2 separate regions of the Homo sapiens genome follow, and region 1 is linked to region 2. The links come from fine-mapping of genetic effects on gene expression. A gene starts in region 2. The other region holds a variant in brackets. All regions are shown on one strand. Distances are between the middles of the regions.

Region 1 (8,354 bases), 34 kb before region 2:
TGGCATTTCAAAAGCAGTCTAAAATTATTTTTAAAAATTGTTTTATCTTGGTGGTAAAACAAAATATTATGAAATTCATTTTAATATGATGAAGTTTCAATAAATCTAACAATTAAAATTGATTACACATGTAGAATCCATGCAAAAAAATAAGTCAGTGAAATAGAATCACCTTCATGTCATGGGTTGTCATTGTTTGCTTGTTATTAACCCTGTAATGCCACACACCTACTCTGCCTTGTCCATTGCTGTATTCCCAGCACCTAGCAGAGTATATAGTACACACACACAAATTTATGAATTAATGAATTTCAGATCAGTGTATGCTATGAAAAAAACATAAATACAACAAATTTGAATCATGTCTATCTAGTTATTTGGTTTAGACATATTGATATGATTTTTCACATATGTTCTAATACATTTTTGATGCTGATTATATTACACCTATCTCTATCTTTCCATTTAGATATGGATAAAGTCTTACATGCATTTAGCAATAAATTTCATAAGGTTAAGTTGATTGAAAATAATCGGAATTTGTAAAGAAGAACAAATATGTCTGTGGACAAAATCTGTAAGCAAAAAATATACAAAAAGATCCCAATGCACTGAGATAGGATGTGTTATGAGGTGAAACTGATCAAGGATAACTATGACACCTTTGCTCATGTATAGTCAACTGAATTCACTGTCACAAAATAAGGGGTCATATCTTAGCCCCTTTTTTGGTTATCAGAACATTCAATATCAGATGATTTCATGACCAAAAGGATATCATATCCATCTTCATTAAGGACAGTACCACAGGTAAACCTAGGGCGGCACAGTCCAACTCTGTACTGGTTGGTAAATTCTTGGACTATTTCTTTCAGTTCTGAGTACCTTCATTTAGAAGGATTTAGATGGATTAAAATATATTTACAAAAGAATAACACAACATCGCTTATGAGAAATGTTTAAAGAAAGAGAAATATTTAACCTAGAGATGTGGAATTTTGTTAAAAGGATATAAAAGTTATAAATAAAAAAAGTTATAAATAAAAAAAGTTATAAAAAACTTATGTGTCTGTGGATGTCATCAAAGGGAATTTCTGTCTTTTTAAATTTACAATATATTTTACTTTAATCCTTCTCTCTCCGAGCTACTATCATGACCTGTCTGAGTTTCAAGAGCAGGTAATAACTTGTCTTCTCACATCAGCTTTTGCACTCCACTCCCTAATTCTATTGTCAACTTAGCAGGTAGAGAAACTCTTCTAAAGGGTCATGTGATCATGTGAACAGAAATGACAACAGAGCTTACATTTATTACTGTCTTATTTGATCCTCACAGCATCCAAATGAAATAAACATCATTGGCCTTTCTTGAGATGAAGAAATAGATTGTTTGAAACTGCCCACTGGCCTGACTTGCTCAAAGACACATGACTAGAAAGTTATCAATCTGTAACTAGAAATCAGGTCTATCTTATTTCAGACTTCAGTTTTATGGGCCACCAAATTGTCAATGAGTCCTGAGACTAGCAGCAATGTGAGCTTGGGAATTGGCAGGAAATAGTCTGAAGTAGAGATCCTAAATTAGTCATCTATTGCTGTGTCACAAATTACCCAAGACTTAGTGGAAGGAAGTCATGCCATGCCAGTGTTGGTCTAAAGGTTAAGAAAGATGGGAAATTCTGCTGTGGTGCTCTGGGGAAAGCTCCACACCACATAAGGCTTTGAAGTATCCTGAAACCATTGTGTGCTGTGATAAAGATAATCTAGCCCCATAAAGCAACCATATGAGTGAAGCCATCTGGGAAGTGTATGTTCCATTGCTTCCCCTACCACAAAATGAGCCACCCTCGCTAGCATCATGGCCAGCAGAGACAAATTGCATAACTAAGTAGCATAACACTACAAACATGTATTATCTTTCATAGTTTCTGTAAAATACGTCTTCTTCACTAATGTATTTCATGTGCCTAGTGCATGACATAAAACAAGTTCTCAATTGTTACTAAAATAAATATTACATGAGTTAAAGAATAAATGTGTATACACATGATTATGTGAATATATAAAGTATCATGGAGAGATGAATAATACTTTTGTATGATCTCTTCTTAATATGATTACTTCTCTACATATTTTCTATTCCAAATATGTATTGAAATGTTAGGTAAAGGAATGAGTAAATTATATGAGGAATAAGAAAAATTTTGGTAATTAAAGAGGAAAAGAATTAAATAGATTAGTGACATAAGACAATTAAAAGTTTGCCATGTTGAGGAGCAAAGCTTGGATGAATTCAGGTGAGAGATTTCTGAGAACTATGGGATGTCACAGGGAAGACAGGAGGCTGTCCAAGAGCCAGACCCAGAAAAATGGTGGCCTAGTCTAAGGAAAAACAAGAATCCTATAAAACAAAACAAAACACTTAATGTCTTCAGGGAATGAATCTCTGTAGAACAATACTATGCAGAACAAAATAACAAAACTTGATTTTGTGAATAATCATCAATCATGAAAAAGTTGACAAGTTTTTGAATAAGAAGCTATCATTAGTATCATTTAATAAATTTAGAAAGAAAGGAATACTATGCAGCCATAAAAAACGATGAGTTCATGTCCTTTGTAGGGACATGGATAAAGCTGGAAACCATCATTCTCAGCAAACTATTGCAAGGACAAAAAACCAAACACCGCGTGTTCTCACTCATAGGTGGGAATTGAACAATGAGAACACATGGACACAGGAAGGGGAACATCACACACCAGGGCCTGTTTTGGGGTGGGGGAAGGGGGAAGGGATAGCATTAGGAGATATACCTAATGCTAAATGACGAGTTAATGGGTGCAGCACACCAACATGGCACATGTATACATATGTAACAAACCTGCACGTTGTGCACATGTACCCTAAAACTTAAAGTATAATAATAATAAAATAAAATTTAAAGAAAGAAAGAAAGGCTTCCATCAGAAAAAAACCAGGAAGCAGAAATTGTATCTCTTATTTGGGCAACAGTTTTTATAAATTAGTATTCCATAAAAGTAAGGATTATTTATTGGCTAGTGCTATTTAAAAAAATAAATGTAGGATCATAAGTTTTTAGAGATACCTGTAATACAGAAAAAGACATGTGCCATTCTAGAGTCAAACATACAATCCCCAAGCCCTACCAGGATCTTTCTAGAAAAACTCAAGTTTCAAACATAACAGATCATACAATAAAGTAATTAAACATATATTTGAGCTTCTACCCAAAATTGTTTCTAAGTCTGGAACTTGGACAAATGTTCAGAAATCCAAAATTTGTTATGAATTAACCTATTATATCATTGTTTAATTCCATTTGACAGTTGAATTTCACTAAAATGCAGGGAAACAATCCGAGTATTAAATATGTTCAAAATACATTTTATTTGGCAGCAATGTTTTCTAACATAGAAGAGACCTAGAAAGCTAATAGCATGTGGAAAGATAAAGGAGATTAAATTTGCCTTTTTGGGTACTGTTATAGGATAAGCCTGAACTCCTGATTTGAATAAATGGTTAAAAGAGTGAAATAACTTACCCAATTTCAAATATCAAAGTTACTATTATATGGGCCAAGTCCTGTTCTATGCATTCAGAACAAATAAGTGAACAAATAATAACTACTACCTGATTGGGGCTTCCTTTTTGATAGGGAAGTTACAAAATGAAATGAAAATAAAATGAAAATAAATGTGAATTCTATAGTATGTGAGAAGGTAATAAATGCTATGGAAATAAAGGTAGAATACAGTGAAGGGTATTAAGTATCAAGGTGGAAGGGAGGGATAGGATGCAGTGTTAAACTGGGTGGTCATGTTAGACCTTCTGTAAAGGTAACTGAAGAAACAACTGCACAATGTAAGGGAAAAGTATTTCAGTCAAAGAGAAGGCAGGAGCGAATAAGTGTGCGAGTAATACAAAATGAAGAAGAAGAAGAGGAAGAGGAAGAAGAAGAAGACAAAGAAGAAGTAGTAGTTACAGTGGTGGTGACGATGTTGGAGAATGTTCTTGATGGCCTCATGTGCCTCTTAAGAATTTTGAGATGTTTATTTATTTATTTATTTTTTAATGAAAATGAGGAGCCATTGCCAGTATTTGTGCAGAAGAGTGCTATGTTGAACATTAGGTTTTAACATTCAGATTGCTGTACTAAGAACAGTCTAGCATGGGTTAACTCTGCTCTCTGCCATCACACAGGTCTAAAGTCCTTGCCTCAGTGCTTCTAATT[T/C]CTTCATTAGTCATCTTATGATGCAGCTGCTCACATGATTTGAACAAGTTCTTTGGAACACATTGTCTTTATTTGATCCCTGTTTTTTAGTGCCATGTAAATTACTCATAAACACAGTGCTTTGGCCATCCCAATAATAAGACAGAACAAATGTAATTTCTTTTTACCCCAACTTCCGCATTCGTGGTCTCTCCATTAGTAAATCCCAAACATTGGAAATATCAATTCATTTACCAAATGTTTATTGCATGTCTGTTATGTGCCAGGCACCGTTGTATGACTTAGAGATTCAGCAGTGAACAAAATAAAGCAGGACACTGCTTTCATAAAGCTCATATTAAAATTCAAATAGTATATACAACATAAACTGTACATATTGAAGGCTAACCCTCATGCACACAATTTAAATTTCATTTCAAAAAGATAAAAATGGGACAAATCATGCTTTAGTATATCACCCTCTTTCATAGACTCTATAACATCCAGGTCAAAGATATTTTCAGATCCTATTTTGTGCCTTTGAAAAGAGAGGATATTGTTCTTATATTTAGCACACTCGTCCCTCCTTTTTCTCGGTAATAGTAATTCTACTTTTATTCTAGTATTTTCTTTTCTCTATGGAGCTCCTATAAATGTGGGGAAGATAATTTCTGTTTTAGGTATGTTCTAACTGAACTAATGTAATAGGCACAACCCATGTTCCTGGCTTCAGGGATGAGAACATGACCCAAATCAGGCCAACGTGATGGGAGGAGATGTTTTCTGAGGGTTTTTGAGAAAGAACTTTCTTATTCTCCCAAGAGAGCTCCTCAGAAAAAAAAGAAAATTCTCCTTCTGCTTACTATGAATGCAAAGTCTTTTAACCACTGGCAGATGACAGCGGCCATCTTGTAACCCCAAGAGAAAGAAGCCTTAGATTGAAAGAGCACTGAGAAAGGTGCCAAGGAGACTTGGAAAGGAATTGAGTCTTTTGTGATGTCATCACAACATTGGGTTACATATTACCTAAAATCTGACGTGCCTCTGGTCTTCAGTTACTTGCTCCATTAAGTTCTGCTATTTAAGCCTGAGAATGAGTCAAGCATTCTGTTATTTTTACTGAAGATTCCTAAGGGATACACTGACTATATGCCTGGTGCTAGCCATAACAAAGGAGTAACACAGAGTCTGTAACATCAAGGAATTTACATGTTAGTGGCAGAGACAAAATACAATTAAAAATAAAATAATAAAAGGGAAATGAGTTTTAGGATATTGGAAAGAGAAGGATCCACCTTGCAAGAACTCAGCCTGTTAATGAAGGGTTTCTAAGGAAAATGTCTTAGAAGGAAATAATACTTGAGGTGTCTTTTTTAAATAACTGAGGCAAAGAAAGAGAAAAGCAGTCAGTCAAAAGAAACAGGTCTGCTATTAATAATTATAATACTCAATATGTATTGTGTTTACGTCTTTGCTGTGCTGAAGTATTTGCAGATACTGTGTCATTTAATCTCTACAACAATTTTATGAACTACTTCTTATAAATGGGGAAATTGAGGCTGATAAAAGTGAAATAACTTACCCAATTTCAAATATCAAAGTTACGAATCAGGGAACTCAAAACAAGCTCTTTGACTGCAGGACCCAGATTCAAATCCACTGTATACTTCTGGCCTCTAGAACTTAGAGACTAAAGCAAATATACTGTAAGTGGAGATTATTAAGTAGTTCTTTTTATCTGGAGCATTTAGTATGAGGATGGGTGGAAATAAATGAAGATACAGAGGAGATCATGGGCTATATTGTAAAAGGGTTTTATGCTAAAAAAAATTCAATTTCTTACTAAATGGAATCCTAAGTGCTATAATTCTTGAATCTCTCTAAGACATATCTGATCATGAGAAAATATTCATACCAAGTATAGGCCAAGTACAGAGATTAAATAATAACAACATGATTTATGATTATCTCAAAAGTATAGAAATTCAGAGACTCACCAATCATATACATAATTTATAGTAATATAAATATACATGAAATGGATTAAGCATTATCAAATTTAGCTAAGTATTCTTAAAGGATCTTATGCAAAAACATACACATGTAAATGGAATGTCTTAGATATTTATTTTAATGGATGGTGAAGACTGCAAAACAATACAAGGAGACGTATATCAAATGCCTTTTACTTGTATAAACAAGAATTTCTGTAACATGAAGTAAGTATAATTTAATTGATGTTTATTAAACTATCATACTCAGAAGCTATTTTGAATGACTTTATTTAGATTGTATTTCTTAAAATGAAGATGTGTTTACAGAAATTTGCATTCATTGCTGGTGGAAATACAGAAGGATATGTCAACTTCCCAAGACAGTTTGACAGTCTCTTACAAAATGAAGCACAAGCTTCACATGCAATCCAGCAATCATTCTTCTATGTACTTACCCAAATGAGTTAAATTTTTGTCTACACAAAAACCTGCCTATAATTTGTAAATCAGTTTTATTCATAATTGCTAAATATTGGAAGCAACCAAATGTCCTTCAGTAGGATAATGGTTACACAAAATATCATATATCCATACAACTGAATATCATTCAACAATAAAAAGAAATGAGCTATCAGCCACAAAAAGAAATGGAAGAGCCTTAAATGTATATTGCTAAGAGAAAGAAACCAGTCTGTAAAGGCTATATTCCAAATGATTCCAACCATATGGCACTCTGTGATAGACAAAAAACTACAGAGATGGTAAAAAGATCAGTGGTGTCCAAAGATTCAGGGAGAGGGAAACAGGAATGAGTAAGTGGAGATAGTTTTACCTATGCACGGGGCATTTTTAAGATGTTCAAACTATTATGTATGATACTGTAATGGTGGATGCATGGTGTTATGCATTCATCAAGCCCCTTGTTAATAACAGGAGAAACTATGTGGGAAGAGAATATATAGTAATATGTACAGAATATATTTTCTGTACTCTATACACAATTTTTCTGTGATCTATGACTTCGCTAAAAAAAAGATGTCCAAATATTGTCTCCCATTCTGTAGGTTGTCTGTTAACTCTGACAAAGAACTAATATTCAGAAACTACAAGGTATGCAAACAAATCAACAATAAAAAAACATTAAAAACTGGGCACAGGACATGAACAGGCATTTCTCAAAAGAACAAATACAAGCAGCCAGCAAACACACGAAAAATGCTCAACACCAATAATCATCAGATACATGCAAATTAAAACCACACTGAGATATGATCTTATGCCAGTCAGAATGACTATTATTAAAAAGGCAAATAACAAAAGATGTTGGCGTGGATGTGGAGAAAAGAGAACGCTTATAAACTGTTGGTAGGCATGTAAATTAGTTCAACCACTATGAAAAACAGTAAGGAGATATCTCAAATAACTAAAAATAGAACTACTATTTAACCCAACAATTCACTACTTGATATTTACCCAAAGGAAAAGAAATCATTATACTAAAAAGGTACTTGCACTCGTATGTTTATAAAAAGCACTATTCACAGTAGTAAAGTCATGGAACCACCCTAAGTGTCCACCAGTGGCTGCTTAAAGAAAATGTGGTAATATTTATGCTGTGGAATACTATGCAGCCATAAAAAAGAATGAAATCATGTCCTTTGTAGGATGTAACTGCAGACCATTATCCTAAGTAAACTAACTCAGAAGAAGAAGATAAAATACTGCATGGTCTTACCTATAAGTGAGATCTAAACAATGAGTATGCATGGACATAAAGGTTGAGATAATAGAACCTGGGGACTCCAAAATGGAGAAGGGTTGGAGGAGGGTTGATTGTTGAAAAATTGTCTATTGGGTACAGTGTTCAATATTTGGGTGGTGGATACACTAGAAGCCCAATTCCCACCATTATGCATGTAATATCCATGTAACAAACAAGTACATGTACCTCCTGAATCTAAAGTAAATTTTTAAAAATATGAAGTCCAGGCCGGGTGTGGTGGAGCACGCCTGTAATCCCAGCACTTTGGGAGGCCAAGGCGAGCAGATCACAAGGTCAAGAGATGGAGACCATCCCAGCCAACATGGTGAAATCTGATCTCTACTAAAAATACAAAAAATAACTGAG
Region 2 (8,354 bases):
TGAGTACTCCAAACTTTTCTTTTTAATGTATTACATCATCTTCCTGAGAAGTAGCTCTATTTTCGCCATGCTCATCTATCTTCCTTCCCCTTACTAAGATATTAATATACTGAGATTAAAACTACAACCTTCTAACTAGTTTCCTTGACTCTAGTTTCACCACTCTACATGTGCTTGCTAGATTTGATTTTCTAAAATAATAATTGGATCATGTTATTACCTCATTCAATTACCTTTGATAACATCTAGATTCAAGCATAATAATTGGCACATATTCATCAACAAATTAATATTTGATGAACAAATGAATGAATAAATGTATAAGTGCTCCATGGGAGAATTTCAAGTCCTTCCACAGTTAGACCTTACCCTCATTTATTTCATTATCTCCTTTTAGTTATTTCCATAAACATGGGACATTAATTTATTGTGTGACTTTGACATGTCAGATACCATGAGAGTTACTGAATGTTCAAAGAAATAAAGGAACTCAAGGCTTCTTTGAAAGAAAGTATCTGCTTAAGCCACATTGATTTATTTATTGTCTTCTGCTTTCCCATTGCCAAGGTTTGTTAGTGTCATTTTGCCAACATAAAAAGCCATTTCTTTCTTTTCTCTCCATGCATATTCTTTTCATCCCTCAGGATTTAGCTCAAATTGTACCTTGTTCATTATAAACACTTACCTAACCACTCAAATGTAAAGTGATCCATCCCTCAATCCCTTCTCTGACTTTCTAAGACAATTATTTTAATTACATCATACTTTACTTTGGCCGGGAATTATACATTATAAGTTTTCTGGTATGCTAAAGCTAAAATATTATTATACAAATCTATAGTTTATGCCATATCTCCTTATGCAACATATTTCCCTTGAGGCTATGCCCTTCACATCGTACTTTGTATTTCTTGGTATCTTCCATGGGGCCTGGTATAACACTTCCTCCCACAGTGGTTCCTCAGTCTATATTTTTTGATTAATTGATTGATGAGTTATTGTAAATTTCCTTGTATTTAACAGAGAGGTATGTACCTTGTGCAGACTAATGGATATTCAATAAGTGTTGATTTACTGTCCAAGTACAAACTAATCAATATTATGGAAATAATAATTAATCTTTTAATTAATTACAACTGACAAAAGAGATGCCCCAGAGCATTCAAGAAAAGTCAGGAAATTAAGGAACTGAATATCTCCTTGATACTTTTTAATCTATTTTAATTCATTACTTATCCTTTCCCTGTCTCTATTCCCATTTCTACTTTACTGCTCAGAGTAGAAATTCTTAACCTGGAGTCTCTGTTTCCTTATAAAGTCCATGAATGGATTTCAGCTGGACTTGGAGCCCAATAAAATGTTATGCATAAAGAAAGCCAGGCTGTTATGTAACAACACAAAGTCAAGGCTTAAACGAAAGCTTATCTAGCTCCAAACTATATCATAGCTTAGCTGATTTCTTCTGTTGTTAGGCAGAAAATCCACTGGACTATAAAAGATGTGCAGTCTGGTTATTGTACTGGAGTGTCCAAGGTAAAGTTTGTAATAACAAAAAACACAAGAGAAGCAGCAGCGGAAGCAACAAGTGTTGCTTGAGATGTGTCAGGCACAGTTCTAAATGTTTTATGTATTAAACTTCTTTGAACCTCACTATAAACTCATGAAGGGGATACCACTGTGGCTACTCACATTGTATAGGTTAAAAACCTGGAGAACAAAGAGGTTAAGTTACTTGTACAAGGTACCAGGACACCAAACACAATGGTAAGGGATGGAGGAATAGAGGCATGGGAAGATAGCCAAGGTAAAAGTTGTCTACACCAAATTTTCTTTCAAGCTATTCTGTATTCAAAGTGCCCTCAGTTCCACGCTAGTCATCTTTCTTGGCTAGGGAAGAACTCTGTCTACAGTGGCAACTACAGAGCCAGACAATTCACACCAGACCCAGATCTGACTTTGCAGAGTCAGTCTACAGACAAACCAGTCACATCAGGATTGTGAAGATAATCACTTGCCTCTAGACCTCTTAGAAAGTAAAGGGGTGTCAGAAGGAGACCTTTCTAAGCTCTGGCATTCTTCATATCCTTAATGGGCAGGTACAATTAAATACTTTGTATGTGATGTCAATGAGAGAGAATGGCCCTGAAATGAACTTCGACAATGTGCAGAATACAGTTAACCCTGTTAGCTAGTGGGTTGTCAGTAGAAATCAAAGTTTAAGTAGTTTAACAGTAGATGTGGGATGTGCTCTGAATTGGAATATTTCACATATCTATATGTCAGCCAGGGATTCAGGGAATCCTACCCCAAACATTCCAAGCCAGAATGACTTTAAGCAATCTGTGCACAGTGCTGTTTCTAGTCTTAAAATGGTTCCATTTCATGTTGGATTGCAAGAGACCTGGTTTCTGGTCATAGTGTCATGACCTCTTGGTGACTTAACTGCGTATGACTTTGTTGGGACATAGTTTCTTCTACTGAAAAATGAGTATGACGATAGATGTAACTTGTGATTAAAGATGCAGCTTTTAAATATGATGATGTTTGGTAAAATGCTTGAGATTTTGGAGGTGAGTTTCTTTCCAAACAACAACAACAAAAAGAAAATTTTTATTTGTTCCTGAACAAATTAAATAAAGTTTTAAAAGCATTGCAACTTGGTCATGGTTTGTAAAATAGTCTGAAAAGATGTTATCTCAAAACTTTGATAATTACTTTTCTATATGTAAGAATTTGCTTCCTCTTTCTTAAGATACATTATAGTTTAGTATAGTTTAGTAATGAAAAGTGGATTAGGCATGAGAAGACCTGGATATTAGTTTCTGCTTTGTTTCTTGCCAGCTCTGTGAACTTGGGCAAGTCACTGGGCTTCAATTTTCTCATTTGTAAAACAGAAATAGTAAATATGACTTATCTTGTCTAACTCAAAGGATTGTTTTGAAATATGTCAAGACATAATAAAAGCTTGCATTTACAGAGATTTTCACTTATAAGGATTAAGTTCTGAGTTAAGTGTTTTATATATATTGCCTTATTTAATCTCCACTCCAACACTATGAGTTAGGTAAGAATTTGTATCCATTTTTCAGATATGGAAACTGAAATTCAGAGAGGTTAAGCAAGTTGCCTGAGTTCATATAGCTTACTATCGGGGGGAAGGAACAAGATCTAAATCTTAACCATAATGGTTCTGCTTTTATAAAAGTAAAATTATCTACATAAAAAGGCATTATGTCTTTTTTTCTCCTCCTCCTCATTTTTCTTCTTCTACTTTTTCTTTAATACTTCCTTTTCTCTCTCTCTGTCTTGTAATGATGGCCATAATTTGTCATATACACTTTAGTAGGGTTAAGTTTTGATAAACAGTAAGCCAGGATTGGGGCAAAACACCAGTCCGGGTACGGTCCATAGCCAATCATTTGATTGTCTTTACTAATTTAGCAAATGTATCTTGGTAACTTAGTATATACCATGGCTATTCTGGGTGCAGGGATTCTACAAACATGAACACAATGTCATTCCTCCCTTGGAGTAAGACACGTACATAAATAATTATAATATGAGGCAGGAGTGATTATATGTCATCAAAAAGAGATAAATGCCATATAAGGAGAGTTCAGAAAGGAAATTAATAAATTCCAAGTAAAGGGGATCATGGACTTTTGCACCAATGTCCAGGGACAATAGTGCTTGCCTTTGTCTAAACTATCAGAATAACTAGATATGTGGTTATTAAATGTTAAGGAGATGCAGAGTAGGGTAAATTGTTTATCTGAGAGGCTGGGCTTAGGAAATAAGGCAAACTATAACGTGGTAACACGCCTCCCCCTCCTTAGATACCACTTGAGAATTTAATTTCTCTAAGTTTTTTTGAGGAAAAAGAATATTTACTGTGGAAGAATATACTTTGATGGCTGGAGGAGGGAAGGAAGGAGGCTGGAGGATGGGAGGGGGATCATCTCATGTTTCAAACTGTTGATTTCCAGTTTCCACCTGGTAACAGCCTAGGGGCCAGAGCATAATGATACAAGTCAAAACACAGAGACCTACACAGAGACAACTAACAGCATCCAGCAAGGGAATTATAAAAGCTCAAAAAAGATTTCCAGTGGCTAAATAAATACCTTTCCTTGTAGTTGCACTTGTTTTTCTTTTCATTTACTGAAATTTGGAAAGACACATAGACTCTATTGCCTTTTCAAAGTTCTAGTTTACATAAAAGTATAATCTATGAAAATCAAATTTTTCATATATAGAGGATGAAACTATGTTGTGATCAACTACAGGTTATCTATGTATTTTATTTAAAAACTGGTGGACAGGGAGAAAGATTTTAAACTATGATTAATGAAAGTGATAGATGACATACTTTTCATATAAAACCATGACTTTCTTTCAGGACACTTTAGAAATATGTCCAAAATATACAGAAAAACTCCACAGCATAGTGCTTGAATTTACACAAACATTCCAAGGCAAGTAGGAATCCGAATGAGTAGTTTCACATAAGGCTACTCATTTATTTTTGCAGTCCACATTTAAAACAACTACAAGATTAATTTCATTCCATTTTTCTGGACTTACACATCCCAAAAGCAAGAAAAAAATGTCATTTTGGAAGTATAATAAATGCTACTTGTAAACAAGGCTAGAAAGGGTGGAGAATGAAATGAGATGGGGGGTGGGGAAACAAACCCTTTAGTTACAATATCTTAGGGAAATGAATCTACAATAAGACAAATTTCAAATCAAGTTGCTCCACTATACTGCATAAGCAGTTTAGAATCTTAAGCAGATGCAAAAAGAATAAAGCAAATGGGAGGAAAAAAAAGGCCGATAAAGTTTCTGGCTACAATACAAGAGACATATCATTACCATATGATCTAATGTGGGTGTCAGCCGGATTGTGTTCATTGAGGGAAACCTTATTTTTTAACTGTGCTATGGAGTAGAAGCAGGAGGTTTTCAACCTAGTCACAGAGCAGCACCTACCCCCTCCTCCTTTCCACACCTGCAAACTCTTTTACTTGGGCTGAATATTTAGTGTAATTACATCTCAGCTTTGAGGGCTCCTGTGGCAAATTCCCGGATTAAAAGGTATGGTTTTCAATAATTGTCCTGAACTCTGCTACAGACTAATAAAACTTCGGTCAAGTTGCGAGCAAAAGGGATTATTTGGTGAGAAAAAGAAAAGGAAAAAAAAAACTGTTAAACTTTTATAGTTTTTATGCAACATTTTAAACAAGTATTATTTGAAAACAGAAGTTAAATATTTGATAAAATGATTGAATGCATTGTTTTATTTCTTTCTCTTCTGTTTTTGCAAAGATGCTTCTTAAAAAACTGTAACCTAACACCATGACTCTCTATATTAATGTTTTTGTGTTTGTATTAATGAATGTTTAGCTCTTCAAGAGATGGTAACCGAAAAGTATTCTGAAGTAGCATATCTGTAATTGACCTATATATTTAAAAAATGTATTTTTCTCCTGAATTTTTGATTGCTTTAAGGACTTTTAAAAGCCCAGAAGAACTGAACTCTGGTGATTAGCTGAAAATACCTAATGTATATTTCTTCAACCCCAGAAATGAACAGAAATTATCACCAGAGAAGTGAAAATAAACATTGAAAATATTTATGTTATTAAATGCCTAAGATACTAAAAACGCTGTATAATTTCTTAAATGTAAAGTGTCCCAGTCAGTATCTTCACTGCAAGTGAAATTTTAAGATACATTCACTATAAAATGAGGATGTGGGTTAATTTTCTAATTTTAAAACAGGGTAACACAGTGACCACTGATTAAGTGGGCTCCCAGTGATGTAAATACCTGTGGCTTTTTTTTTTCCTGTTGCTGTTTCTAACCAGAAAAGAGCCAAATGCCTCCTATAGTAACCCTTGTTTGTGGATAAATGCCGCCTTTATTCTTTATTTTAAAATTACATATATTATAATTGAAGTTTTTAATCATCTAGTGCTGTAGGATTTTAATTTTGTTTTGCATTTATAGCTTCACTTATCTCTTGAGGGTTAAATTTTGACTTTGAAAGTGACACCAGAGGCATAGATAACATAATGCAAATGTTGATCTGGATGACATACTTCATTTAATGGGCTTAACTAGTTTTAGGAACCAGAAATTATTATTTTTGGTAAAACATTTGTAAACTATGGCAACTAGCTTCAGTGGAGTAGTGATATTACATTAGTAATTAGCATCTTGGACATTGTCATGCATTTTTAGACTACTTAAAACAGTTTCAGTATAATTTAAACAGCATATCATCTCAATAACAATCTCTTTGGTTACTACTTGGACAGCTGCTCTTTGCTCTTTATATTTCTGATTAATTAAGGAAAGAAGGAAATGACGAAAGGAATTATCAGTATTGACAGCCCACATTAAATGTTTTAAGATGCTGGGTCTTGAAGTACCATGACACTAATTTAAAACAGATGATTTTATGGAAGATTTTGCACAAAGTTTCTGGACATGCAATTATTTTTTCACAGTACAGTCAGGGTTAAATGCACACACACACATACACTCTCTCTCTGTCACACACACATGAACACACACACATACATTCTCTCTCTCTCACACACACACACACACGAGCAAATGAAAATGAAATAAAGGTCGGTGATTGAAGTTATAAGCTGCCTGTCTATATTCAGCTTCAATCAAAAAGAATATTGTTTGGAGAATTTGTACCATTTTAACAGGAGTAAACAAACATAAATTATAATACTATTTCTCTCAGCTAATACTCAACATTTTCTTTTTGTGGGTTGTTAGTGAAACAACCAGGCATGTTCTGCTCTGGAGAAAAGATTTCAAAGTGACATCTGCATTAACTGTCGTTGCTATTTATTAAATCTGCAATGACTTTGCTTCATTTTTCTTTTAAACTTGTAAGACATTAAATATGCAAGGCTAGCAAGCTTGTGGTAAACCATAAACATTGCATTTTTAATGGGAAACAGATACAAAACCACTCCCTCAGATACAATCCAAAGGAACAGGCTGCCAAAACAAAAGTCTTCTCTTAAAGGGATACTCAGTAACTGAATGAGAGTGGGCTGCTAGAAGAAGCTTAATGTTGAACTTAAAGTGGCAGTGTGAATAATAATCTTTATGATATTTTGTTAAATGAAAAGCCACAAGCCTGTATTCAACATGTGCTGCCTTAGACACATATCAGTAGTAAATATAAACTAAGAACAAACATGTAAGAAACTGAAAAACATTTGTTTCTTCTCTAGAGAATCTAGGCAAAAATTCCCAGAAGATACCTTAAGGTTAGATCATACAAAGATCTTTCTTTTCTCTTCTCTTCTTTCTTTCTCTCTCTCTCTCTCTTTCTTTCACTTTCTTCCTTTCTTTCTTTTTCTCTTTCTTTCTTTCCTTTTCTTTCTTCCTTCTTTCTTTCTTTCTTCCTTCCTTCTTTCTTTCTTCTTTTTTTTAATATGCTACAATTGGATAATGACTCAAAACAGCTGTAAGATTCTACTTACGAACGTACAGCTTTAATATGGATTCGTCTAAGTGTACAATTCAAGGTAGAGATGATGGGACTAAATATCTGCTATGATGGGACTAAATATCTACTATGTTTTGGAGATATCAGAATGGTTTCAATGCAATTTAAAAAATATTTCATCTCCCAAATGACTTTGCTGCTATATAATCAAGTACTTTTGTTATTCAGATTTATTACGATTTTGTCACTCAGATTTATTTAGTGCACTTCAGTTGATTTAACAACATAGATTCGTGCTTGTGGAATGAATGGATAAATATGGAATACATTTATCAAAACAATACTTGTTTTTTTACAAAATGCCCTGTTAGCAAAATGAGATCATATATACATCACATAAAAATCAGAATTTTCCATATGTGTTTATTAGCTTATTAAACATAATGTTTGAGAAACTAGGAAATTGATTTATTTTTTAAAGCCGATCTTGCTTATACCAAGTTGAGGTTTTCAATCTGCTTTTTTTATATCAGAAATTCGATACTGAAAAAAAGCTAATTTTGTGTTTTAAAAAATCAGACTGATTGCTTGGAACAAATGGAATAAATCGTCTTGTCAATAAAGTGATGGTCAATTGAGTCATTTGTGTGCAAAATATTGTGCAAGGCCCGGGTACAGAACAAGGAATAATAAGACACGCCCTGAAGGAGTACATCGTCTAGTGAGGGACAGACCAAGCACGCAAAACAAATTGCAATATAATGTGATAAGTTCTTTAAAAGAGGTAAGAGCAACGTGCTTTGGGAGCAGAGAAGAGGGAGAAAGCAGCATCTTGCCTGGATGAGCCAGGGGACACAGAAGAGAAGCC

Evidence for each region.
Region 1: its variant is fine-mapped to the expression of DCN in fibroblasts (GTEx, PIP above 0.99).

The regions. Positions count from the first base shown.
Region 1 is chr12:91,213,003-91,221,356 of GRCh38, reverse strand. No RefSeq gene overlaps it. Among named protein-coding and RNA genes, the nearest start is that of DCN, 34 kb to the right of the region's middle. The variant T/C (reference allele first, on the strand shown) is at 4,254.
Region 2 is chr12:91,179,398-91,187,751 of GRCh38, reverse strand. DCN (decorin) reads left to right here and starts at 4,935. Exons shown (of 8, transcript NM_001920.5): 1 at 4,935-5,097.